Linked DNA regions of Homo sapiens: region 1 is linked to region 2. The links come from fine-mapping of genetic effects on gene expression. A gene starts in region 2. The other region holds a variant in brackets. All regions are shown on one strand. Distances are from middle to middle. Region 1 overlaps ADAMTS8 (ADAM metallopeptidase with thrombospondin type 1 motif 8). Region 2 holds the start of ADAMTS8 (ADAM metallopeptidase with thrombospondin type 1 motif 8).

The links. PIP is the estimated chance that this variant, and not a neighbour inherited with it, causes the effect.
Region 1: its variant is the best candidate, but not a certain one, in a credible set for the expression of ADAMTS8 in prefrontal cortex (CommonMind, PIP 0.84).

What each region holds. Positions count from the first base shown.
Region 1 is chr11:130,399,130-130,411,301 of GRCh38, reverse strand. It overlaps ADAMTS8 (ADAM metallopeptidase with thrombospondin type 1 motif 8), which reads left to right. Exons shown (of 9, transcript NM_007037.6): 7 at 2,362-2,534; 8 at 2,663-2,838; 9 at 5,174-6,379. The coding sequence ends at 5,744. ZBTB44-DT (ZBTB44 divergent transcript) reads right to left here. Exons shown (of 7, transcript NR_148980.1): 6 at 10,215-10,292; 7 at 7,645-8,001. Among named protein-coding and RNA genes, the nearest start is that of ADAMTS8, 23 kb to the left of the region's middle. The variant C/G (reference allele first, on the strand shown) is at 3,818.
Region 2 is chr11:130,422,092-130,434,387 of GRCh38, reverse strand. It overlaps ADAMTS8 (ADAM metallopeptidase with thrombospondin type 1 motif 8), which reads left to right and starts at 5,779. Exons shown (of 9, transcript NM_007037.6): 1 at 5,779-6,821. The coding sequence starts at 6,102.

The DNA of each region.
Region 1 (12,172 bases), 23 kb after region 2:
CCAGAGGGGAGTAAATTGGGTCTCCTGGGATGTAGAGTTTTGCCTGTGATCTCCACCTAAATGGGCTCTGCAAGGTTCCAATCCCAGGGGCAGCTCTCAGGGACCCGGGACAGCTCTCATAGTGTTCAGAGAGCCTGGCAAAGTCAAGGAGAGAAATTACGCTCATCTTCCAAGATGTGGAGAGGAGGACATCACTCCCAACCAAACTTATTGGGGAGGAGCCTCTGCAGAGGGGCTGGTGTCTAGGAAACTAATCCTCCTGGAGGCATAGGAACCCTCATCTGTGTGCAGAATGGAAGCATTTTCCAAAGCAAGTGTCAGAGCCAAACCTCCAAGGTCTTTCTAGCCAAAATTCAGCCCAGGGCAGAGGGAGGATTTCTGAATCTGATTCCTGTTCACATTCCTTCTGAGAAGAGTTGCCCATCTTCCCTTGGGAACATGGCAACTGTTTGACAGAATCTTCCCAGGAAGGAATACTACCTCTCCCTCCCCTTGGCATATTCCTATCCCCAGTACCTGCTGGAAACCATGAACATTAACTTAGAGGCAGTAAAGGGGCAGCAGCAAACTCGTGAGAGGGAAATCATTACAAGGTTTTTCCCCACCATCCCATCCAACTGCCCAGTGTGCAGCTCCAGGAAGGATTGGCAGGCAAGAAAAATCAGGCAGAGCCTTAGGAGAGATTCAACCACGGGAAAAGACACTGGCATTGGGTTGATGTCTCAGGAGAATCTGTAGGCTTTGCGGTTTCACAAGACAAGAAGGATCCACAATGGTTTGAGGCTCTAGAAACTTTGCCCTGGAATTGTATGAGAGTTTGCCTGGCATACAGGGTGAGACGTTGCTGGGAAAGGGGGAGGATGAGAATGAATATAGGGTGCAAGGTAGGTGTGGACGAAAAGTGATGCCATGATGTCAGATGCACCAAAGTCTGCCATTACTGTCGAGTATTTTTTAGTATTTTTTGTGTGTCTAGAACTATAAAAATGTATGAAAATGTAAAAGGCATGGTCTCTGTCCCTAAGGAGCTTGTAGTCCAATTAGAGACCCAAATCCCTTTAACACAGCCATTACATTTCAATGGATGAGTCACAGACCCTAGGTTGGTGAGGCGCTCGGAGAAAGGAAAGGCTGGGTGAGCGGAAGCTTTGAAAGGAGTTAGGACTGAGCAGAGTCTGGAGGACTGAGATGGGTGAGGTGTGAGGGGACCTGCCAGGGTGGTGGAAAGGTGTGAGAAGGGCCCTCATTCACTTAGGTGGAATCAAGCAAAGCACACCACTATGTCAAGGCCAGACCACAGAGGTCCTTGAAGGCTGACACAGTATCTGGGAGTTATCTGTGCCACCTGTCCCATTAAGTCACCTGGAAGCTCCTGCAGACACAGCCCAGACCCCCTCAGCTGCACTGACTCAGAGTCTCAGGCGTGGAGTATGGCATCTGCCTTGGCAAAGTCTCCCCAGGCATTCAGATGCACAGTTTGGGCAGGGAACCTTGGCAGGAAGAACAGCTTTAATTTTAGGATTTGGGGGTGGAAAGCAACCCACATCTAACTTCAGATGGGTTGGTCTGGCAGCAGCACGTGGCAGGATGGAGAGGAGGCAGGCACAGGTCCCCATGAAGCCAGCAGGCCTGGGCTTGTGGTGGTGAGAGTGGGATGCCATCGTTTTAAATCACAGATTGTCCTGAATATAGTGTGGGTCTTTGTGACAGTTTGGAAATAGCAGATAGAGATGCTCAAATGTTCGGGAGATACCAGGATACCAGTCTCAGACTTGGGCATGGTAAGATCAGCAAATGAAAGTCAAGACAGTTCGTGGAAGGACCATCGGGAGCTTGGCCATGCTGAGTTGGAGGTAATCACAGTACATACAAACGGAGCTCCCCAGGGACACCCAGAATTACGGAATGTGGGTGTAGGGGCAAGATCAGAGCTAGACATGTAGATTTAGGAGTCTTTGGATTCATGTCCGGTGTCACTGAGGAAATCGATACTGCACAATTAGTAGTGTCCTGAGAATATAGCTCCACATGCCATTCTGTGCCTTCCAAGCTTACTGAATTGTTCCCTGTTGCTCCCTGCGTTTATTCACCTGTAGAGTACAATGAGTCTCTTTCCCTAATGGAAAGGGCATTTATCCTAGAAAGCCCAGCATGCGGCTGGAGGCTCCTTTCCTTGCCCTTTTGAGTAAGGGTCACACATGCGTCTAGGAATGTTGTGCCCAGAAGACACTGGCCCTGGGCGCCTGGGTTGAGTTCAAAACCAAAAGAAAGAAGAAAAGTGCTGTAAATTCGGGATTTCTCCACCGGATGCTCCTGCTTCCGCATGGGTGTCACCTCCATGCCGTTTCTTCCTCTTTCTAGGGAAAAGCTTCAGGGAGCAGCAGTGTGAGAAGTATAATGCCTACAATTACACTGACATGGACGGGAATCTCCTGCAGTGGGTCCCCAAGTATGCTGGGGTGTCCCCCCGGGACCGCTGCAAGTTGTTCTGCCGAGCCCGGGGGAGGAGCGAGTTCAAAGTGTTCGAGGCCAAGGTGAGAATCACCCTGGGACTCAGATCCAGAGATGGGGAGGAAGGTCGCCTGTCCCCACACCCCCGCCCCCCGGCAGGCTGCTTCTGTGCTCAACACGCCCTCCCTCACCTTCCCTTTCCCCGTTGCAGGTGATTGATGGCACCCTGTGTGGGCCAGAAACACTGGCCATCTGTGTCCGTGGCCAGTGTGTCAAGGCCGGCTGTGACCATGTGGTGGACTCGCCTCGGAAGCTGGACAAATGCGGGGTGTGTGGGGGCAAAGGCAACTCCTGCAGGAAGGTCTCCGGGTCCCTCACCCCCACCAAGTGAGTCTCCCCAGAAGTTCTGTACCTTGCTTGGTAGAAGAGCATAATGGGCTTTGCACTCTGCTAGGCCCAAATTGAACTGTGGCTGCTACTTAATAGCTGTGAGGGTTGGGCAAGTTATTTAAACTCTCCGAGCTTCAGTTTCTTTGTAAAATGTCAGCAGTATCTCTATCTCAGAGTCGTTGTAAGGATTTCCTGAGATGGGATGTGCACTTGGCAGTGTCGAGCTCATAGAAAAGATAGAACACAGGGCAGCCGTGACTTTTACGAGGGCTGGAGGCCATGTGGATAGGGAGCTGTCATCTCTGAGTCAATCGAGCCACACTGAGTAACCTGGACCTCTGCCAGAAAACAGCTCTCCCAGGCCTGTTTTGGGAAGGACGTCTCACCCTAAGCCTGGCAAGCCCCTGTCCTTTCTGCAGATGGATCTTCAGAGAAGGGGGTTACCAAAAAGGGGCCCTGGCAGCCTCAGGGCTTTCATGAATCTGAGAACTCCAGACACTTTTTTCTCATCCTAATGCCCCACATTCATAAAACTCCAAGGATTTTCCAAAGCGCTTTCATTTCCATGGTCTCATTTGATTTGTAAAATAAGTCCATGAGGTGAGCAAGGCCAATACTATTCCTCATTTTGCAGAGGAAGAAATTAAGGCACAGAAAGATTAAATGACTTTTCTAAGGTCACATTGATGGTTAATGACAGCCAGAAGAGAACCTAGTTTTCCTAAGTCCTGGATGACTTTTGTCTCCCATTCCATGTACTTCCTGCAGAGTAAGGGCAAGTTCGGGTGTTTTATATGGGCCACACTCTGCCTGTCTGCCTCCAGTACATCAATGTGTCCTAGGGCTTATGTGAGCATCCACCTGTCCAGCCACTTCCCCCACTCACGGTCTCAGAGTTTTTGAGAAGTGTTCACTGTATTGTATTCTACCTAGTGAAGCTCGCAAACCCTGCCCCATTCTGTGTGTGTGTGTGTGT[C/G]TGTCTGTCTGTCTGTCTGTCTCTACATCTCTCATCTCACCAGTCTGAGAGAACAGAATCAGCCTACAGCAGGCAACTTGGGACTGTTTTCATTTTTTTTAATTTATTTTTATTATTTTGAGACAGAGTCTCACTCTGTTGCCTAGGCTGGAGTGCGGTGGCACGATCTTGGCTCACTGCAACCTGCTTCCCAGGTTCAAGCAATTCTCCTGCCTCAGCTTCCCAGGTAGCTGGGATTACAGGCATGCACCACCACACCCAGCTAATTTTTGTATTTTTAGTAGAGACTGGGTTTCGTCATGTTGGCCAGGCTGGTCTTGAACTCCTGGCATCAAGTGATCCGCCCGCCTTGGCCTCCCAAAGTGCTGGGATTGTGGGTATGAGCCACTGCGCCCTGCCTTGGAACTCTTTTTACATTTAAGCTCAAAAGACATAGAAAAAGAGAAGCAGACACTATTCAGATACTGGGTCCCTTGGCCACTTTCCCTCAGGCTTTAGACAGATGGGCCTGTGGACACTCTAAGAGTCTGAAACTAAGCAGCTAGCCCCAGCTGGACATATGGTAAGAAAAGCAAAAAGCCCGCCTGACCACTCGCCTCACTTTCTCCCCAGCCTATGGAACCCAGATTTCCAGAAAAGAACAAACAACTAATCTTTCTTCATCCTACCTAAAGCCCTAAGCCTATAATGGACTGGAAACAGTTTCCCAAAACTGCTTCCTATCATTCCAGAAGCACAGTGCTCATGGTGCCTGGGCACTCCCAGAAGGTGGCTTCAAAGAAGCAGGCTTAAACCCCCAACTCCCAACCCCACCCTGATCCCACCCTAGGGCCATATTCATCAAATACTAGGAGCCGACTGACTCAGAGAGGTGGTGTGAAATTTCCCTCCTGTTCACGTTCTGGAAGGGGTGTGTGGAACAGTTTTTTCCATGTGGGTTTGAGCTCTGGGTATGGAGGTGGCCAATCAAAGTTGTATACCAGTGCAAGGAGCTAGAGGTATTTGAGATCACATTTGACAGGTGCCAGGTTTGGCTACACCAGTGCAGCTTTCCACATCCTTCTGGGTTCTCCTCGTCTCTATGCTGTTCTCAACACCCACATACCTCAACTCCTCAACCACACTTTTGAAATAGAGTTGCCAGATGAAGCAAACACCCTTGAAAATCCCAATGTACAGACATTTCTGTCTGCCTAAACAGCTAATTTATTGAGAACTTTGAGGCAACTTGCTTAATTACTTGCTTTGTTTTTTTCGTGTCTGCCACCTGGGGTGCCCACTTCAGTCTCCAAGGCATCATCGTGACCTGGGCTGGGCAGCCACTGGTCTAAGGGTGTCCTTCTGTTTCTATCACAGTTATGGCTACAATGACATTGTCACCATCCCAGCTGGTGCCACTAATATTGACGTGAAGCAGCGGAGCCACCCGGGTGTGCAGAACGATGGGAACTACCTGGCGCTGAAGACGGCTGATGGGCAGTACCTGCTCAACGGCAACCTGGCCATCTCTGCCATAGAGCAGGACATCTTGGTGAAGGGGACCATCCTGAAGTACAGCGGCTCCATCGCCACCCTGGAGCGCCTGCAGAGCTTCCGGCCCTTGCCAGAGCCTCTGACAGTGCAGCTCCTGACAGTCCCTGGCGAGGTCTTCCCCCCAAAAGTCAAATACACCTTCTTTGTTCCTAATGACGTGGACTTTAGCATGCAGAGCAGCAAAGAGAGAGCAACCACCAACATCATCCAGCCGCTGCTCCACGCACAGTGGGTGCTGGGGGACTGGTCTGAGTGCTCTAGCACCTGCGGGGCCGGCTGGCAGAGGCGAACTGTAGAGTGCAGGGACCCCTCCGGCCAGGCCTCTGCCACCTGCAACAAGGCTCTGAAACCCGAGGATGCCAAGCCCTGCGAAAGCCAGCTGTGCCCCCTGTGATTCAGGGGGGCAGGGGCCAGTCTTGTGCTCCTGGACATGCGGTACTGAGGTGCAGACAAGGGTCTCCACTGTGGTGACTGGGTCCCTTGGCCATATCAAGGCAGCACGGCCCACCCAGGCCTCCCATTGCCGCAACCCCTCCAGTACTGCACAAATTCCTAAGGGGGAAGAGGAGAGGGTATGGGGCGGCAGACCCTATCATCAACTGTCCAGTGGACTGGACCTTGCTCGGGTTCAAGTAGAGGGCATAGGTTAAAAGGTAAAAGTGCACTTATTGACTCAGACAGGACACTCAGCGTCAGTCTGTTTGCAAAGGACTAGCAAACTTAAATGAAAAAAAAAATTCTATCTGGTTTCCCCGATAAATAATCTACCTCACAGGGGAAAAAATTAGTACAAGAGAGGCGTGGGGCAGGGAGTCAATGGTGAATGTCAAAGCAGGCTCCAAAGCTGGACCCCAAGCTGTCTTCAAGAATGACCACGACTGTCTTCAGTGTTAAAATCCATCACCTAAAGGGCCGCAGCGTCGCAGGGTTTGGAGAGCCACATGTTCTCAGGCTGCCACCTGCAGGGGTGGATCCATTTCAAGTATTTATGCAAATGTGTCTCTGAACTAAAGTGTGATCTTATGCCAATGCAGTGGTCTGGTCTGATTCATTGTTTCTTTGGAAAGGGCAGCAACCTAGAACCCAGGGATGGAGGCTGAAACTAGGTCAGCAGCTGGATCCCTGCCTGCTCTGGGTCCTCACAGGCCTGCAGAATCCAGCTCATTCGGGCAACTTTCATTTGCAGGATCTAGACCAGTGGTTCCCAAGGTTTCATTAGGATCACGTAGAGGGCTGTGAAAATGGATTGTGAGGCTGGGCACAGTGGCTCACACCTGTCATTCCAGCACTTTGGGAGGCTGAGGCAGGAGGATTGCCTGAGCCCAGGAGTTCAAGACCAGCCATGACAATATGGCGAGACCCTGTTTCTATAAAAAATTAAAAAACGAAATCAGTCGGTCATGGTGGTACAGGCCTGTAGTCCCAGCTACTCAGGAGGCTGAGGTGGGAGGGTCACTTGAGCCCAGGAGGTTGAGGCTGCAGTGAGCCATTTTCATGCCACTGCACTCCAGCCTGGATGACACAGTGAGACCCTGTCTCAAAAAAAAAAAAAAAGAAAGAAAGAAAGAAAAGAAAACACAGATTGTGGGGCCCCATCCCCAGAGTTTCTGATCTAATGGTTGGGGTGGCCTGAGAATCTGCATTTCTAACAAGTTCCCAGTGACTGACATGGAGGCTGCTGGTTTGGGAGCCACACTGTGAACACCTGTGCTACAGGAAACGTCCAGCTGGGAGATCACAATTGTTATGCGATGCCTTTGGGCTCATCATTCTTGAGAAAGAATATCCCCTTCCTCTCTGTGAGCTACCCCATCATCCTCTTACATGCTGCCTGCCTCCTTTTAGTTTAGCTGGGGGCACCAGATCCTCAGCCCCTACTCCGCTCCATAGCTCCTCATCTCTCCTGTGGCTCAGAGGAACTCTGGCTCAGTCTTCCACCTGGTCTGGTGCAGAGGGAACTTACTTAGTCCCTGATCACAAATGGGTGACAAGAAACAGACATCAAGAAATGACATTCTAGCAAAAGAAGGAAAATACCCAAATGTGCATCTTGGTTTTTTTCACCACCTGTGCCCCCTTTGTCCTCCCATTCAGATATCTGGCACCATGGGCAGAGAGGATGCTGTAGGGGCACTAGGCAAGGCCATGAGATTCCAGCCCCACTGTTCCCCTTAGCTGCTCTCTACACGATGACAGCTGACTCAGAGTTGGTCACTCCTTCTTGTCTGCCTACTCTTTTCAGCGAGTGGGAGGCTGGGCTTACCTAAGCATAAACAGGCACACACACAGGCATGTTGTTGATGACTAGCAAAACCAGATTGTTTCCCTGCTGTGCACCAGTTTTGTGGAGGCTGATGTATGCTTCCGCAACTCTTCATCGCCTTCCATTTCTCGCTCTCCCCCAAATAAGGCCAAGCGTGTCCCCCTTAACGGCCTAAGCCAGGCCAGCTGTGCCATCCCTGCTGCCTGCATCATTACCAGGCACAGCTTTTGCCCTGGAGTTCAGCTGGCAGCAGAGCTGCTGATGTGCAAAGCAGAATGGAATCCAGCTTGGCTCTCCCGGTTGTGTGGGCTCGGCGAGGCTCTCAGAACGCATACTTGTTTGTGTCTGGAAATTCAACAGCTGCAGCCCAGGGACTCAGAAACCAGATCTGCAGAGGAAGACCACACCATTATCTGCCCCAGCCAACCACGACCACTCTGTGCACCCAGAGAAGGAGAGAAGACTGTATTTCCTCTGCTGAAAGATTGTGTTTTCCAGCTAGTGCTCCTAATGGAAACTGGTACTCTCTTCTAATGGGAGGCCCTGACTTGGCAGGTAATTTGGTCATTAATCTGAATCCTCCAGGCACCTGCCAGAAATACTTCGAAGGTGGTACAGTAGCATAAAGTTAATTTCCAACCTTTCATTTTTAAGATAAGTGAATCTTTATCTGGGGTTTATCCTCTGCCCTTTATTCCTCTATCACAGATCAGAGGGTTTTGTGAATTTACAAAAGTATGCAATATTACTATTCCCAGTCCACTCTAGCAGACCACCCCTCTCCCAGGAACATATTCCAGGGGTGGTAGGACCCATCTCACTAGATCCGCATCTGTTCTCTGATGACATCCACCTGCTTCTACATCCTTTGTGCTTGAACTTTTTAACCAAGTCACCCTCTTAGTGAGGACTCTTCCTCTTTTCTGGTGTCCAAACATGTCACCCTTCCTGTTTTCCTCTGGAGTGTGCTCCGGAGTTGTTTCAAACCACCCCTCCCTCCCCACACCCCCCAAAAAACAAAACTACAAATGACAAGAACAATTGGAAAGTTCTTAAGGGATACTGGCTTTTGCTTTGTCTTGATATTTTCCACTTGTGGTCCAGGGCAGATAAAGAGGGAGGCCTTGTCAGCCCTGCGCTATGGCGTCTGCAGCGTTGAGCAGCTGCGTGTACTGGGCTTTCCTGCGTGGTGCAGACTACCCTGCCCAGGTGCCCCTGGTCCCAGGAGGGGAGGCTCGTGAACCCCGCAGCAATCTCGACTCCGTGTGCTCTGCCCCAGATCACCAGGTCCCTCCAGGAACCTGCAGCATTTCCTTTGCTGTTTGGGAATTCAAAATGGTTTCTCGAAAAATGTGAACAGGAAGGCAGAATTTATCAAAGAGGACTAGATGTAGCACGACCCTTGGATTCCCAGATTTCTGCTGCCACAGACTCATCACTTCTTTTTGCCCCTATGATGAGTTGAAGCTACATTTCGGAACACATGGCCCCAAAAAACAGGAGACGGGGTGAACATCATGAGGACGGTGATGACGTCTTCTATAAGCCTAGGTTACTGGCCCTGAGACGTGTCCTCTGCCCTCCTCCACTCCCACTCTGCCCTGTGTGATGTGGGAGGGAATTCCTCAGGTGAAGACAGGCTCGTCCCTGCCCAGAATTTCCCATCCGTAGCTGCACCGCGGTTAGACACTCAGCTTCCCCAAGCCCCGCATGTGCACCGTCAGTAAGTACCGGGACAGGAAGCAGAGGAAGGGAAGGATGCAGCCGCATTCAGTCCCAGAGAACAGCAGGCCCGGGTTACTCCTCTTTGGTGGCCGGGGCTGAAGGACAGTCTGTCTTATGGGGAAAACTCTCCTCCCCACGTTTTTCTGGGGGCCTCCGCTGAGCTCGCATTGGGAGAGCTGCATGTGGAATGTGGGAAAGAAGAAGTCACCCATCTAAGCCAGCGTCTTCATTGGCTCAATGTTGGTGATCACTAATGCGACAAATACTGTGGTTGTATTGACCGTACATATGACAACATTCTAAACAACACAGGAGAACACAACGAGCAACAGTAAAAACTGGAGGGTCCCGCGAACGGAGTGGGTGGGCTGTGACTCCCACACTTTCCCTGCCCCTGGCCAGCCCCTCCTAAGCACCTGTGTGCTTTCCAGGTCAACACTGCAGAATGACCTGGCCAGACGTAACCAATAGGTGTGGTCCTAAACAGCTGGTACCACACTTCCCTGGCTCGTTCTTCTTCAGGTGGGGAGTTTTTCTGACCTTCCACTTTGGAAAGAGCAGGACTTGCTTAAAACTGAGTGCCGGCCAGCCCACACCCCCTGAAATAGATCAAGGGACTCATCACAGCCACTGCTCAAGTACTGGGAAGAGACATGACACCAGTGCACAAGTGCATTCTGAACCGTAATGACAAGCAGAGAGCAAGAAAGCCACCTGTCTCTTTAGAACATACTTTCCCTCAGGCCTGGGGCTCAGTAGAAAGAGACAGGAAGGTTCCGGCTGGCCTTCCAGCCCCCAGAGCTGCCCAGCCCAGCCCTGGCAGATGCGAATCGCCCCAGGAAAGGAGAGAGGAAAGAAGCCTTCCCCAGACCTCACCGTTCCTCATTCCAAACATCTTGTAAGTCCCAGGGGCACTGAGAGAGTTTGTCCGCAGCCAAACACAACTTCCTGTTTCTAAGAAAGGGAAGAAAAAAAATAGTTGAAAGGGTTTTTGGACACTGGAAATTTCAAGTTTCTGTAAACGCGAATGAATCAGACACATGTGGAATGAATTTCTCCGGAAGTAAGAAAAGATGCTGTGAGTTCCTCTTGCTGGACCAGAAAATAGGAAAAGGGTAGCTGCGGGGGAGGTGCGTCAGAGGCTGCAAGGAGAGAAGCCATGTGGACATGGGATGGAAGAGAGGGTCCCATCAGTGACAAGGTTCAACGAGGCTGCCCTGAAGCCACGTTCTGAAGCTGCTCATTACTCAGAACTGCTCCACCTCTGAAGTCCTACATCAAATCTCCTCCTCCTCAACCACAATCTCCCATCTTCCCAGATCTTTCCCATAAATGCATCCTTCCCCATGCCCTGACCGCCTCCGCACGTGTCCTTCCCCCATCCATCTTTCCTGCTCCTCTGTCTTCAGCTTTCCCTGAGCTGCTTGGACTCCACGTTCAGCGCCTCCACCTCAATCTTGCCAGTGTTCTCACTGCCCTTGCCCCACAGACTCTCTGTGCTGCTCAGCAGGCAGAGCCTCACACGGCACCCATTCCCCTCTCCCCACCTCTCACCTCTCACGTCATCCTGCTACAAGCAGATCCACACCCCGGGGGAATCCCAGCCCTGAGCACACTGGTGCCACCATAAAGTTACAGCGTTTGATGGAAACTGTCCAGCAACCCGAGCAGACCCCCTCTCAGCAATACCGATGGTTGTCCACAGAACTATTCTGCGCTTCCCATGCTCCTCCAGCTCATCCCCATGCCACGCTTCGCTGTGAGTGAACAAACTCACCTCCACTGCTAAGTGGAGCCCAGTACCGTATCTCTTATCATGGAAGGGAGAGGGGACACCAGCTCACCATTAACGGGCCACGTATAGACACGAATCTAGAGGAACATTATAACTCTCTCTTATTTTGGATTCAACAGGCATGTTTCAATCTCTGTCAAGTCCATAGGAGAGTGAAGACTCAGAAGATAACTCCTCCCCCTGATTAAATTAATCCTCCAGCTCTCTGAAGGGCACAGTACATCATGAGATTTAAACACCTAGGTCTAAAACAAAAAAAAACAAAGAAAAAGAAAAATACGCCGGGCACAGTGACTCATGCCGGGAATTCCAGCATCTGGGGAGGCTGAGGCAGGCAAATCACTTGAGGCCGAGAGTTTGAGACCAGCCTGGACAACATGGTAAGACCTCGTTTCTATAAAACATATAAAAAACTTAGCCAGGGCTGTTCCAGCTACCCAGGAGGCTGAGGTGGGAGGATCACCTGAGCCCAGGGAGGTCGAGGCTGCAGTGAGCTGTGATCCTACCACTGCACTTCAGCCTGGGTGACAGAGCCAGACCCCTTCTCAAAAGTAAATAAATAAATACACACCCAGGCTCCCTCATGGCCCAGCTTCTCTACCTCATCCTCCTTGTTGGCCCCTCAGTTTCCACCACTGTTTGGAGTCCTGGGTGTGGCCCTGACATGGTCTGTCAGTCCCTCGGTTCTTTCTAGTTTCACTGTTAGATGGAGATGGTTCTTCAGATCCCAAAGGTGGGTGAGGGGAAGGGGGAAAATCTCTCACAGGGACAGGACCAAGGACAGCATACCTAAGAGAGTAGGCTTTGCACAGTACTAACTGTGGCCTCCTGCTAGCCTATCCCTGGTGCATTAGGATGTGAAAAAATGTCTCCCTCTTCTCCATCTGGAGTTACATTACCGAAAGCCTAGCCTACAAATGTGTCAGATCTCAGGAAGCAGGACAGGGTGAGGAAAAAAAAAAAAAACACAAGAAAATGAAATCGTAATTTTAAAAACCCTGTTCGTTTCTTACCACGAATCCTGAAATCTTGCTGGTAG
Region 2 (12,296 bases):
CTAAGAATACAAATGGCAGGAACAGAAAGGGCTGTTTGTGAATTTGTTTCTCAGTGTATTAAAATCAATTAAAACCTCATTAGCAAGCAATACAATGTCAATATCGCAGTAAAGTTTCTGCTAAATCTGGTTTTCCCTGATATAGATCACAGAATTGGGAGCATGCCTGTTGAGACTGTGAACACCAGATGAAGGCAGGAAAAATAATCAGAGTAGCTAGCTCTTTACAGGGAATTGAACTTAAAGTGGCCTCAGGGATATGATTTAATGATTTCCAGCCAGGCGTGGTGGCTCACATCTGTAATCCTAGCACTTTGGGAGGCGGAGGGCAGGAGTTCAAGACCAGCCTGGCCAACAGGGTGAAACCCCATCTCAACTAAAATTACAAAAATTAGCCAGGCATAGTGGTGGGTGCCTATAATCCCAGCTACTCAGGAGGCTGAGGCAGGAGAATTGCTTGAACCTGGGAGGCGGAGATTGCAGTGAGCCAAGACCATGCCACTGCACTCCAGCCTGGGTGACAGAGTAAGACTCTGTCTCAAAAAAAAAAAAAAAAAAAAGATTTTCTAAATACTGAAAACCTTTAAAGGTTCCAAAAAGAGAGACTATCTAGGACTAAGGAAGAATTAAGCAGCACAGACATGCTTCCACACATGCAGGTGGCAGTCACAGAAACCTGCAGGCCAAAGGGAATACAAGGCGACTGTCAGCACAAAAGTGATGCCAAAAATCAGACATTGCCTGCCTGGGATGTGTGCTCAGTGATATGATAGAGGAGGACAAGGAAATCCTTTATTACAGGCAATGTGGAGTCACAGCCATTGCACAATAGCCAAACTTACAGAAAATGGACGTGAATTGTAGCACAAATGGTATTACTTTGTTTAGAAGGAAAGAACTCTGTTTATATTTAAGTGCTAGCGCAGGCTTTTGAGAGAAGCTGTTTATTCCCTTCTTTGAGATTTTTAAAGGAGGGCCATTCTCCCAAGAAATCTCCAACGACAGGCCCAATGAACACCTGGAGTCTCTTCCAGCTCTGTAATACCATGATGTAATCCTTGGTTCTGCTCAAAGGAACACTAATTCAGTGTACCACAATCTCACCAGAAAACTGTCGTATTCAATTTCCAGTTTATGATTTCCACCTTGGTTAAGAATTCTGTCTCTGCTGCTTATTAGCTAGGTGACCATAAGCAAGTTCTCTAACCTCTCCAGCCTATTTCTTTACCTGTCTGTAAGGTGTCTTTTTCAGAGGACTGTCATGATGATTAAATGAGATAAGAGTTGTGAGCTGCTCAGCACAGTGCCTAGTGCACAGCAAGCACTCAAAAGATGGAAGCTATTATTACTGAGGATTGAATGGAAATTAAATTAAAATAAGTGCGGCCAGGCACGGTGGCTCACGCCTGTAACCCCAGCACTTTGGGAGACTGAGGTGGGCAGATCACGAAGTCAAGAGATCGAGACCATCCTGGCTAACATGGTAAAACCCTGTCTCTACTAAAAATTAGCTGGGCATGGTGGCATGCGCCTATAGTCCCAGCTACTCGGGAGGCTGAGGCAGGGGAATCACTTGAACCCAGGAGGCAGAGGTTGCAGTGAACCGAGATGGCTCCATTGCACTCCAGCCTGGCGACAGAGCAAGACTCTGTCTCAAAAAAAAAAAAAAGTGCTCAGAACAATGCCCAGGCCCATAGTAAACACTAAACTTTACTGAAAATGTACGAATTGTAAATGAAGTTCTAAAGCAAAACAATTTTTTTATCTTCATGTAGAGGATACGATAGTATTTTGGGGAAAAAAATTCATCACTAGTTATGTCATTTTGGGTAAGTCACTGAAACCTCTGAATTTCTGTTTCTTCTCTGCAAAATGTGAGTGGCAGTGGATTAGATGATCACCATTGTTTCTTCCCGTTTTAAGGAGTCTGGAATTCTAAAGAATACCAGAACTTATATACACTAAAAATGTATCATATATACCATATAAAACTCTAGTTATAAACTAAGAAATAAGCAGTCACTAATAATGTAAGTTGATCAAAAACTTAAAAATCACTATAGGCCTACAGTATAAGACACCATAAACATAAAAATCTTTTAATTATTAAGGATGGATTAAATAATAAGCAACTATTAGATACAGAATTAAAGACAAAACAAAGATATTTTCATTTTTTATATAATTTCCTTTTCACATTCAGAGCAAGCAATTATTTTGAGCTTCTTATTCCATAAGAATGGCATATAGCGAGCTTAAGTAATCCCAGATTCCAAATTTGAGGAATCCAAATTGATGCTCTTTTACATTCAGGAGTCAGCAAACTTTTCTGCAAAGAGCCAGATAGTAAATATTTTAGGCTTACTCAACCCTTCCCTCGCAGCTCAAGAGCAAAGAATGCGTACATGAATGGCTGTGGCTGCATTCCAATAAACTTTATTTATGGACACAAATTTGAATTTCATACCATTTTCAAGTGTCAAGAAATTTTAATATTCTTTCTAATTTTTTTAATTTACCACTTAAAAATATAAAAACTATTCTTAGCTTGTAGAGTGCAAAAAAACAAGCAGTGTGCAGCAATTAGCCCAAGGGCCGTAGTTTGGCAACCCTGCCGTAATTACATATTTTGGGAAATAAAGTAGTAATGTAAGAAATCCGGAATTGGCAGAATGCCGTTATGGGATTTTCACGGGTTGGTTTGTTGATGTTTGTTTTGCTGCACTGTTTTCACCTGCCACTCCTCTAAGAGCGGCCACTACAAACCACCCACCCTTTCTCGCTCCCTGTGGCAAGGGTCCTGGGTTTAACATAGCCAGGTCCTGGGTTTAACATAGCCAGGTCCTGGGTTTAACATAGCCAGGTCCTGGGTTTAACATAGCCAGGTCCTGGGTTTAACATAGCCAGGTCCTGGGTTTAACATAGCCAAGGTAAGCCTGACACCTTGTGGTTGCATTGCGAACGGCAGGAGCTACCTTGGAAGTTAGCAGCACTGCACATCTGGGGAAGGGGAAATCCAGGAGGGAGCGGGGACTGCGGGGCCAGTCAATGAACCAGTCAGCAGGTGGTGGTGGTGGTGGTGGCGGCGGCGGCGGTGGTGGGTGGTGGGGGTGGTGGGGGTGGTGGTGATGTTGTTGTTGAAATGAGGAAGGATAAAGTCCAGAACTCACTATCTGACTTCTCTCTCCAAAGAGAACTTCCAAAATGCTACCTATGGGGGCACTTCATCCTATTAAAAAAATGAAGCAGCAGTGGCCAGGCTCGGTGGCTCACGCCTGTAATCCCAGTACTTTGGGAGGCCAAGGTGGGAGAATCACCTGACGTCAGGAGTTCAAGACCAGCCTGACCAACATGGTGAAACCCTGTCTCTACTAAAAAAAAAAAAAAACATCAGCCGGGCATGGTGGCAGGAGCCTGTAATCCCAGCTGCTTGGGAGGCTGAGGCAAGAGAATCACTTGAACCCTGGAGGCGGTTTCAGTGAGCTGAGATCTCGCCATTGCACTCCAGCCTGGGTAACAAGAGCGAAACGCCATCTCAAAAAATTAAAAACTAAAATAAAAATGAAGCAGCAACTTCCAGAGCCTTCACAACCAAAGGCTCCATGGACACTCAAGACTTTCCTTGGTTCAGTTAAATCTCCCACTTCTAGCCCTTAGCATTCGGGCGGGAGAAAGGGAAACTGGGCACGCTCCTCACTCCCACTCCTCCCAGATGCTTACACTCGAGAAAGAAGGAAAACCCACAGGACCTAACTGCTACTGAAAATCAGGAGTTAGCTGGCACAGTAGCTCACACCTATAATCCCAGCACTTTGGGAGGTTGAGGCAGGCGGATCACCTGAGGTCAGGAGTTGGAGACCAGCCTGGCCAAAATGGTGAAACCCCATCTCTACTGAAAGTACAAAAGTTAGCCAGGTGTGGTGGTGCCTGCCTGCAGTCTCAGCTACTTGGGAGGCTGAGGCAGGAGAATCTCTTGAACCTGAGAGGGAGAAGTTGCTGTAAGCCAAGATCGCACCATTGCACTCCAGCCTGGGTGACAAAGTGAGACTGTGTCTCAAAAAGAGAAAATCAGGAGTTGTACTCTGGGAAACAGCAAATAAGGGGCTTCAAGGAGGTAAAAACCAGTCATTGAACTGTTACAATAGCCCTGAGGCAACACAGAGTTGTATTCATTGCTTGCCCAGGTCAGACTGTCCCAAGCACTGTACAGGATGTCCCAAGCACTGTACACTGTGCTAGGACGAAGTGTTTTGCTTGTTTTGAGAAAAGGGTTGAAGAGACCATTCTTTCCATTGTCCTTCCTCTAGAAGTGTTTCCCCAAAACATTCTAGACTCGTTATTCCTATCCTATAAATTATGCAGGAAAGGAGGTTCTGCACCATGCTAGGTTGGGAAGTTCATCCTTTCATCTAATTCACAGCTGTCCCTCTGTGTTTCTGAGAAAGCAAAGAGAGGGGGGATACTTAGAGGGAATTTGGCAGCACTTTCCCCTGGGCAAGAGCCTCCTCTTTGGAGGTAACAAGCCCTGAGAGTCTCAGATGCATGCTGAACCACCACACTGCAGGAAGGGGTCAGATGGGCTGAAAAGAATCAGCGATGACCTCGACTGTCAACATCCCCAGCATAAGCACAGAGCTGGGTACCTGGGGGCAGGTGAATTGGCAAAGGATTTAAAGGCCCTGATCCCAGCGGTTCCTAATGCATCACCCACATTGACAACTCAGAGAAAGGCACAGTTGGTGGATGAGTCTAGAGTTTGTAGGTAGAGAACAGGGCCCTCCACCCAATCCAGACCTGTGTCATTGAGACTGGGATGGGATGCAGTTTTGTGGTCTTGAGACCATGTCATCCCTCTCTTCCTGAATACTACCCCCTTCCCTAGGGGGCAGTGGTGACATGGGACAGAATAAATTCACCTCATACACATTTGTTCCTGGGGCTGTGGCAACGCAGTGAAAGGGCCTGCCACCTTACTTGAAGTCCCGGGCAACTAGCAGTATCCAGAAGAGAAGACCTTTTTCAGGGACTGGAGGTCTGTTTCCCTCTTGGGGAAATGCTAACTTCCAACCTCAGTGCTGGTAACTTACCACTGTGCTGGCCTCTGCCCCACCTGCCCTCTAACAGGACAGTGAGAGTCCCTCTTAGGGTTAACCAGGTGGGTTGTTTTTTGTTTTGTTTTTGTTTTCCCCATCTTCAGTTTGGAGTGAAAGTTAGGAAGGCTGTGCAGTAGTGATGAGAGGAGGGCATGATTTTAGCATGACCTTTTCCTCCTCTCCCTTTATGCTTTACAATGAAAAGCTCAGGAACCTTCTCCCCACACAGTCGGATCTCCGGAGGCATCTGCAGGGATCCCAACAGTGTCGGGCTCTGCAGTCGGACTCTGCAGGGATCCGAACAGGGTCGCTGAGACCAGTGCACGAGCCTCTTCGGAAGATGCATCCTGGACTCTTGGCCGCAGAGGAGAAAGCGGTTGGGGTCTCCCAGGGACTCTTTCTAAAGGGTCAGTCCAGCATGGTAGGGGTTAACGTGGGTCCACGCGTAGAGGGAAAGGAAAGAAGTTGTAGTTGACACTTCAGGGGGGCGGGTGGCGGACGGGTCTCGCTGCCTGATTGGTTTTGCATTTCATCCCAATTTTTTTTTCTCCACTCTCTCTCCCTCTTTTCAGTTTCTCTCTCTGATCCCAGGGGAGGGGAAACGGGAATAGTGAGAGATCAAAAATAAACCTCTTATGTCAAGCCGGGAAGGAAGTATAAATAAGAAGGGCTCGGCAGCCCACTCGGTGCTTCCCGGGGTGGGGAGGAGGCAGGAGGCGGCTGCGCGGGGCTGGCGCGGGCAGGGGCGGAGGACGGGCGCACGCGGGCCGGGGCCAGCTGCTCGCGCTCGGCTCGGGGGCGGCGGCGCGGGAGGAGCGGGCTGCGCCAGCCAGAGGGGCCGCCGGGGGAGCGCTCCCGCCGCCGGGCCCCGCGGGCCGAGTCGGCCTTGCACCCGATTGATTCCGCTTTTCCTGGAGAGAGCGGCCGGGCCGCGCTCGGGCCGCCAGCACCTGCCCGCGCCTGGCGGGCTTCTTCCCTCTCCTGCGCGCAGCCACCGCCGCAGCCCCCATGCTCCCCGCCCCCGCCGCCCCCCGGTGGCCTCCGCTCCTGCTGCTGCTGCTGCTGCTGCTGCCGCTGGCCCGCGGCGCCCCGGCCCGGCCCGCAGCCGGGGGGCAGGCCTCGGAGCTGGTGGTGCCCACGCGGTTGCCCGGCAGCGCGGGCGAGCTCGCGCTCCACCTGTCCGCCTTCGGCAAGGGCTTCGTGCTGCGCCTGGCGCCCGACGACAGCTTCCTAGCGCCCGAGTTCAAGATCGAGCGCCTCGGGGGCTCCGGCCGGGCGACCGGGGGCGAGCGGGGGCTGCGCGGCTGCTTCTTCTCCGGCACCGTGAATGGGGAGCCCGAGTCGCTGGCGGCGGTCAGCCTGTGCCGCGGGCTGAGCGGCTCCTTCCTGCTGGACGGCGAGGAGTTCACCATCCAGCCGCAGGGCGCGGGGGGCTCCCTGGCTCAGCCGCACCGCCTGCAGCGCTGGGGTCCCGCCGGAGCCCGCCCCCTCCCGCGAGGACCCGAGTGGGAGGTGGAGACGGGAGAGGGTCAGAGGCAGGAGAGAGGAGACCACCAGGAGGACAGCGAGGAGGAGAGCCAAGAAGAGGAGGCAGAAGGCGCTAGCGAGCCGCCACCGCCCCTGGGGGCCACGAGTAGGACCAAGCGGTTTGTGTCTGAGGCGCGCTTCGTGGAGACGCTGCTGGTGGCCGATGCGTCCATGGCTGCCTTCTACGGGGCCGACCTGCAGGTAGGACTGAGAGCCTCCTCCAGCCGCCGTGCCCGGAGGCCCCCCAGACGCCTCCCAGCGTCTCTAAAATCTCCCCTTCCAATCCCTCTGAGAAAAAAAAAAAAAAAAAAAAAAAGCCCTCCCCACTCATCTTCTCCAGCCTTACCCCAAACGAGATTCTCTCCTGTCTGAGAAAGAGCAGTAACTCTTTTCTGAACTTCTGCCACCCTGGATCCCTGCGCCCCCACCCCCAGGTCCCTTCCAGTTTAGAGTGGGGCTGCCGACGCCCATCCCTCTCATCCGAATCTCCCGCGGCACGTGGCGCACTGACCCGAAAGTGGGTATCAACGCATTCCCCGGCACCTGCCTCTCCCAGCAGAGATGAAAATTGAGCGTTTACGAATAGCTCCCACTCCCACCCCTCAGCCCTCTACTGCCTCCAGATCTGAGAGGCTCCCAGGGAAAGGCAGATGGGATGGAGAGAGATGGCTGTCTGATTCCCTTGGGTATGGAGGTCGCCATAAGCAAAAGACATTGTTTGAAAGGAGCTGAACCTGGAGAGGGGCTGCCCAACTTCTGTGCAGCCAGCTGGTTGTGATCAATGGGGCATGGACTACCTTGCCAACCTGGCGCTCAGCCCCGGCAGAACTTGGCAATGCCAGCAGCCAGCACAAGAGGGAGGGGCAGAGAACTTCTGCCTGGGGGCTCAGCCCAGGAGCTGAAGCTTTGGTGGAAACGCGAGGGGCGCAGGGGCTGGAACGAGCTCTTTGGGTGAATGTCTCTAGTAAAGCCAGACCCACACTTGGTCCACCCAGCTGCCCTTAGCCCAGACACAGCTCTTACCTAAACAGGGGAGAAAAACAGAGTCCAGGGGATGGCTACCTAACCAGACCATTTCTAACTAGATGCAAAGATGGTGCTGACTCAGCAGGAGGTGTCTGTGTTGCCCTAAACCCCAATTTCTCCCCTAAAGACCAGGTGAAGGCTTTTCCAGGAGGAAAAGAGGGTAAGGCTTCCAGAAGAGGGGTGCTCTTTGCCCCTAGGGAGCACAGAACCAGAGATGTGCCAGGGAAGGAAGAACTGACCTGCCCAGACGTCATAGTTCCCTGAAACAGGGATCCTGGCAATGCAGCAGCTAAGCTGACACTTTGTGGTGATGGCATCCTTGGCCGGGACCCAATACTAGGCTCAGTCTGTGCCCGACTGCTGGGGGCCCCAAGGGCATAGGCATTGCCTGTGCAGAATAGTCCAGACAAGGAGGCGATCAGCCTTCTGTTTCTCACCCCATCTTTCCCACCCTCTATCACTGGGAAAGGCAGGGTAGGAAAGACCCAGGGAGAAACAGATGATTAGGATGGGAACTGCTGTGGGTGAGAGTCCACGTGGCTGCCCCTCTGGCTACTGCAGGTGCTGACTACACCCCAGGGACGCACCCCTGCAAGCCCTTGTGGTATTTGCTTCCCCAAAAGCAGGGCAGAGCAGCTTTGGGTCACGCTGATTTAACACCTGTTTCCCTGCCTGTCCTGAGAGCACGGAGCGGTGGGAGCACCAGCCCTCTCCTCTGACTCCTTTCTTTAAGCAAGTACTAGAGAGTGTGGCAGGAGAGGGGTGAGAAGAGGGCTTCTCCCATCTCTTTAGGACCCCCACACCTGGCTCCTAGGGGGCTCCACCAGAAAGAAGCTAAGATGGCCGGGCACGGTGGCTCAAGCCTGTAATCCCAGCACTTTAGGAGGCCGAGGTGGGCAGATCGCAAGCTCAGGAGATCAAGACCATCCTGGCTAACACGGTGAAACCCCGTCTCTACTAAAAATACAAAAAAAATAGCCAGGCGTGGTGGTGGGCGCCTGTAGTCCCAGCTACTCGGGAGGCTGAGGCAGGAGAATGGTGTCAACTCAGGAGGCAGAGCTTGCAGTGAGCGGAGACCGCGCCACTGCACTCCAGCCTGGGTGACAGAGCAAGACTCCATCTTAAAAAAAAAAAAAAAGAAAAAAGAAAAACACAAAAAAAGTAAGAAGCTAAGATGCACCCATTGCAAACCCAGAGCGGGGTGCTACACCCCTCTACCCCCACACATGGAACAGATTCTGACATCTACCTAAGAACCAAAACATAGGAAAGCCAAGAGAACTCCGTGCCAGCAGAGAAAGTCCATTTTTCAGCCTTCAGGGCCAGACTGTCTCACTCTCTCAGCTGATCACCTGGACGCTGGAGATAACTGAGTATTTGCCTCAGGGACATACTCGCATCTCCAGACATCCTAGCTATCTAGAGGCAGACATGCTCTGAGGCCCGACCCCAGGATGCCCGGGCTGCTGAAGCAGGAGACTCTGCTTGGGTTTGCACCCGATTTTGTTCCCTTCAGCTTAAAGTTCAGGTCTGCTGCCCCAGACAATTCGGCTTTCTCTGTGTCAGAGACACCCAGGCATTGCCATCCTCATGAGACTCCTGACCGGGCGATGTGGCTCCTGCTTGCCCCGCTCCCCATCCCCCACAAACACGCATTTCTGGACCTTTCCCAGCTGCACATTGGCACCTGCACACCCAGCCAGCCCACCTGGACCAGGAGAGCGCAGCAAAACAGGCATCGGGCACCTCTGAAGGCTGAGTTCCTCTCCCTAGGGGGTTGACTTCTGAGTCTCACCTGGAAGAAAAGTCTTCCCTCAGGGAGACTAGCCCCGCCACCTCCACCCTGGGTCTCATGTCCCATCCCACCTGTGCTCCTGCTGCCACCGTGGCGGGTGGGGGAGGGACTGAGGTACAGCTGTGTCCAGGACCACCCTCGGGCCCCTGTGCTATGATGAGCTGACCAGCCTTGGAGATGCTGCAGGACAGGCGTGACTGTCTCAGCTCAGTCCCCTGCGCTTCCGAAAACAGATCCATGAGCCCAGCTGAGAGAAGAATGAAAATCAAGTTCCCGTGCCTCAAGACCTTGGCTGCCCACACCCACCTCCTGCAAATGGAAGCCAGTCCTTTATGTGGAGACCTCATTCACACAGAGGGAAGGCACTCTGGGGTGATTACTCTTGGTAATCAGGGGTGTGGAGGATGAGAAGAGCCTTTACCTCTCTAGGGCTTAGAGTTCCTCATCTGTGAAGCAGGACACCTGGACTAGGTGATCAATCCCGGTCTGAGCACCTGTGTGGCTGCTTCATGATGAGCCAGTCTTCTGGAAGGTTTAGCCACTCTCTGAGCGTGTTCAATTCACAGCGTGGTTTTACACACATCACCTCCATGAAAATACCAGTGAGGGGGGCAGAGGGAGACTGCACAGCTCACAGAGGACATGTGGCTTCCTCAGGATCAGACAGCACCGATCAGGATCAGTAAGTGGCAGGGCTGGGCCTGCAGACCAAGTCTCCCAAAGCTGAATCCTGTGCACTGTTATCCCACCAGGCGGCCTCTTTCTCAGGACTAGGGTCTGTGGCTCTGTCGACCCTCTGATACTTGCTTATGTTGTGGGAGTGGGTCTTTAAATCCAGCAGTTCAAAGCCATCCAGGCCCACTGTGAGGCCCTATCCTGCAAAGAAACCGCCGTGGAGGCTGAGAGAAAGAACGCACCACTGCCAAAGCTGGTCTCACTATGTTACGCGACAATGAAGTTTTCCAGAGCTCTGTCAATTGAGTTCATTTAATCCCATGAGAAAAGGGGCCCCTGTCTCCCACCTTCTTATCTGGTTTCAGAGTTAAGGAGCTCAGACAGAGGGGCCTTTCTGAAAGGAGGGACCACCTGGGAAGACTCCATTAGCTCTGTCTACGTCCAGCTGCTGCTCAGTGTCCCCTGTGTGAACCCGGGGCGAGATGGAGTGAGGGGCAGCATGGCAGTGCCCACTCTCGCCAGCCTGGGACGCCTGTCCCGCCAGTGCTTCTGCAGTGAGCAGAGTTTTCGAGTCCTCTTCTTAGCAGAGAGGGTCCGAAAAGTGGCGCTCATCTTCCCAAAGTCCAGCAGAACACTCGCAGGAGGTCAGATTCTGGGGACTGACTTCAGGGACGGCTGTCACAGCCATCTCCATGCCCCCTTACCTGCATGCTGTGGGGAAAATGTCTTCCACAAGACACTAAAGTGGGCATGCAGCCTAGGTTGTCCAGCAGCATCCCAGTTTCTGCCTGTTCTGGCATAATTATTAATACTACCGTCTTTCCCTCTCAAGGGTGTCCTGGTTTGGATGACAACAGAAACAGATTCATGCCCCCCCCTGCTCTGTGGCTACCAGGGAGAAAGACAAGTGTTATATGTGCGTGATGTCCTTCCCATTGGCAAAAGAATGCATCTTTTCCATCCCTTATGTCTGCTGCAGTCAGAATGATCAAAGATATGGAGTATTTCCCAAAGAAAATGTCTCAGTGTCCAAAGATCGCCCCTTCCCCATCTCCCAGGAGGTGGGGTGTGCATAGGCAATGACAGGCGGACTTGCTGCTTGCAAGCCTTGGGTTCACTTTGGCTAGGCTGCAGTTTTCCTTACAGCAGCAAAGATGGGTGGCAGTTAGTACAGAGACTAAGAACACAAACTTTGGAATGAAATCGAAATAATGTAGTGTCCTTGAGCAAGTCACCTATTTCTGTGTACCTCGATTATTTCAGGTAGGAGCAGTTATACCAATGTCCTAGCCTTGTCTTGAGGATGTAAGAAAATATGGAATGCACCTGACCTGGTGCCTGGTCCAGACGACATACTCAGCAAGGCATGGCTATTACTAGAGTTGCCTTCGGTGATGGAAACCATTTGTTAGAGTGGGGAGGATGGGCTGGGCCATGCCATCAGAGTGCCGGCCACCGCTGTTTCAGCTTTGCTGTTCCACATGGCAGAGGAACCTTCTCTTTCAGTTGCCCATGCTCAGTGGTGAAGGCTGACTTGTAGTTCAGCGTCAGCGTATGCTTTCAAGGGACAACATTGCTCTTTGCTGCTTGCAGAACAAGAGGAGATGAAGCATATGATGCAGGTTGCTCTTTTCTCCTCTCACTTCTTTCCTCTCGCTTTGCTTCTCCATCTCCACACCCCCAGCTCAGTCTCAGGCCCTAGAGACGTCAGATAGGAAGAGGGAATGCAAGAGCTTCCCGGGGCCACTTTTCCTCACCTGACCTCCCCCCAGGCGCGCCGCAAGGGAAAGCTGTGGAGCCACCGGTGAAGCGCAAACCGGCTGGATGTAATGATGACATCGGGGCGGGAGGAGGCCGGCCCGTCCCCATCACCCACCGCAGCTGGCTTCGGCTACCACAGAAGCTCTGAGGAAGGAATCTCCTTGTTCGTATCTCAAAGAACCAAAAGGGGCTCTGGCCCACCCAACTGGCCAGGGTGTTGTTATTTTTTTTTAATTCATTTTTTTTTAATAGAGACAGGATCTCACTATGTTTCCCAGGCTGGTCTCAAGTGATTCTCCCACCTTGGCCTTCCAAAGTGCTGGGGTTACAGACATGAGCCACCCTGACTGGCCTGATGTTCATCTCTACTCCAGGTCCTGGGGTCACTCATGCACGAGCAGACTCCCTAAAAAGTGCCG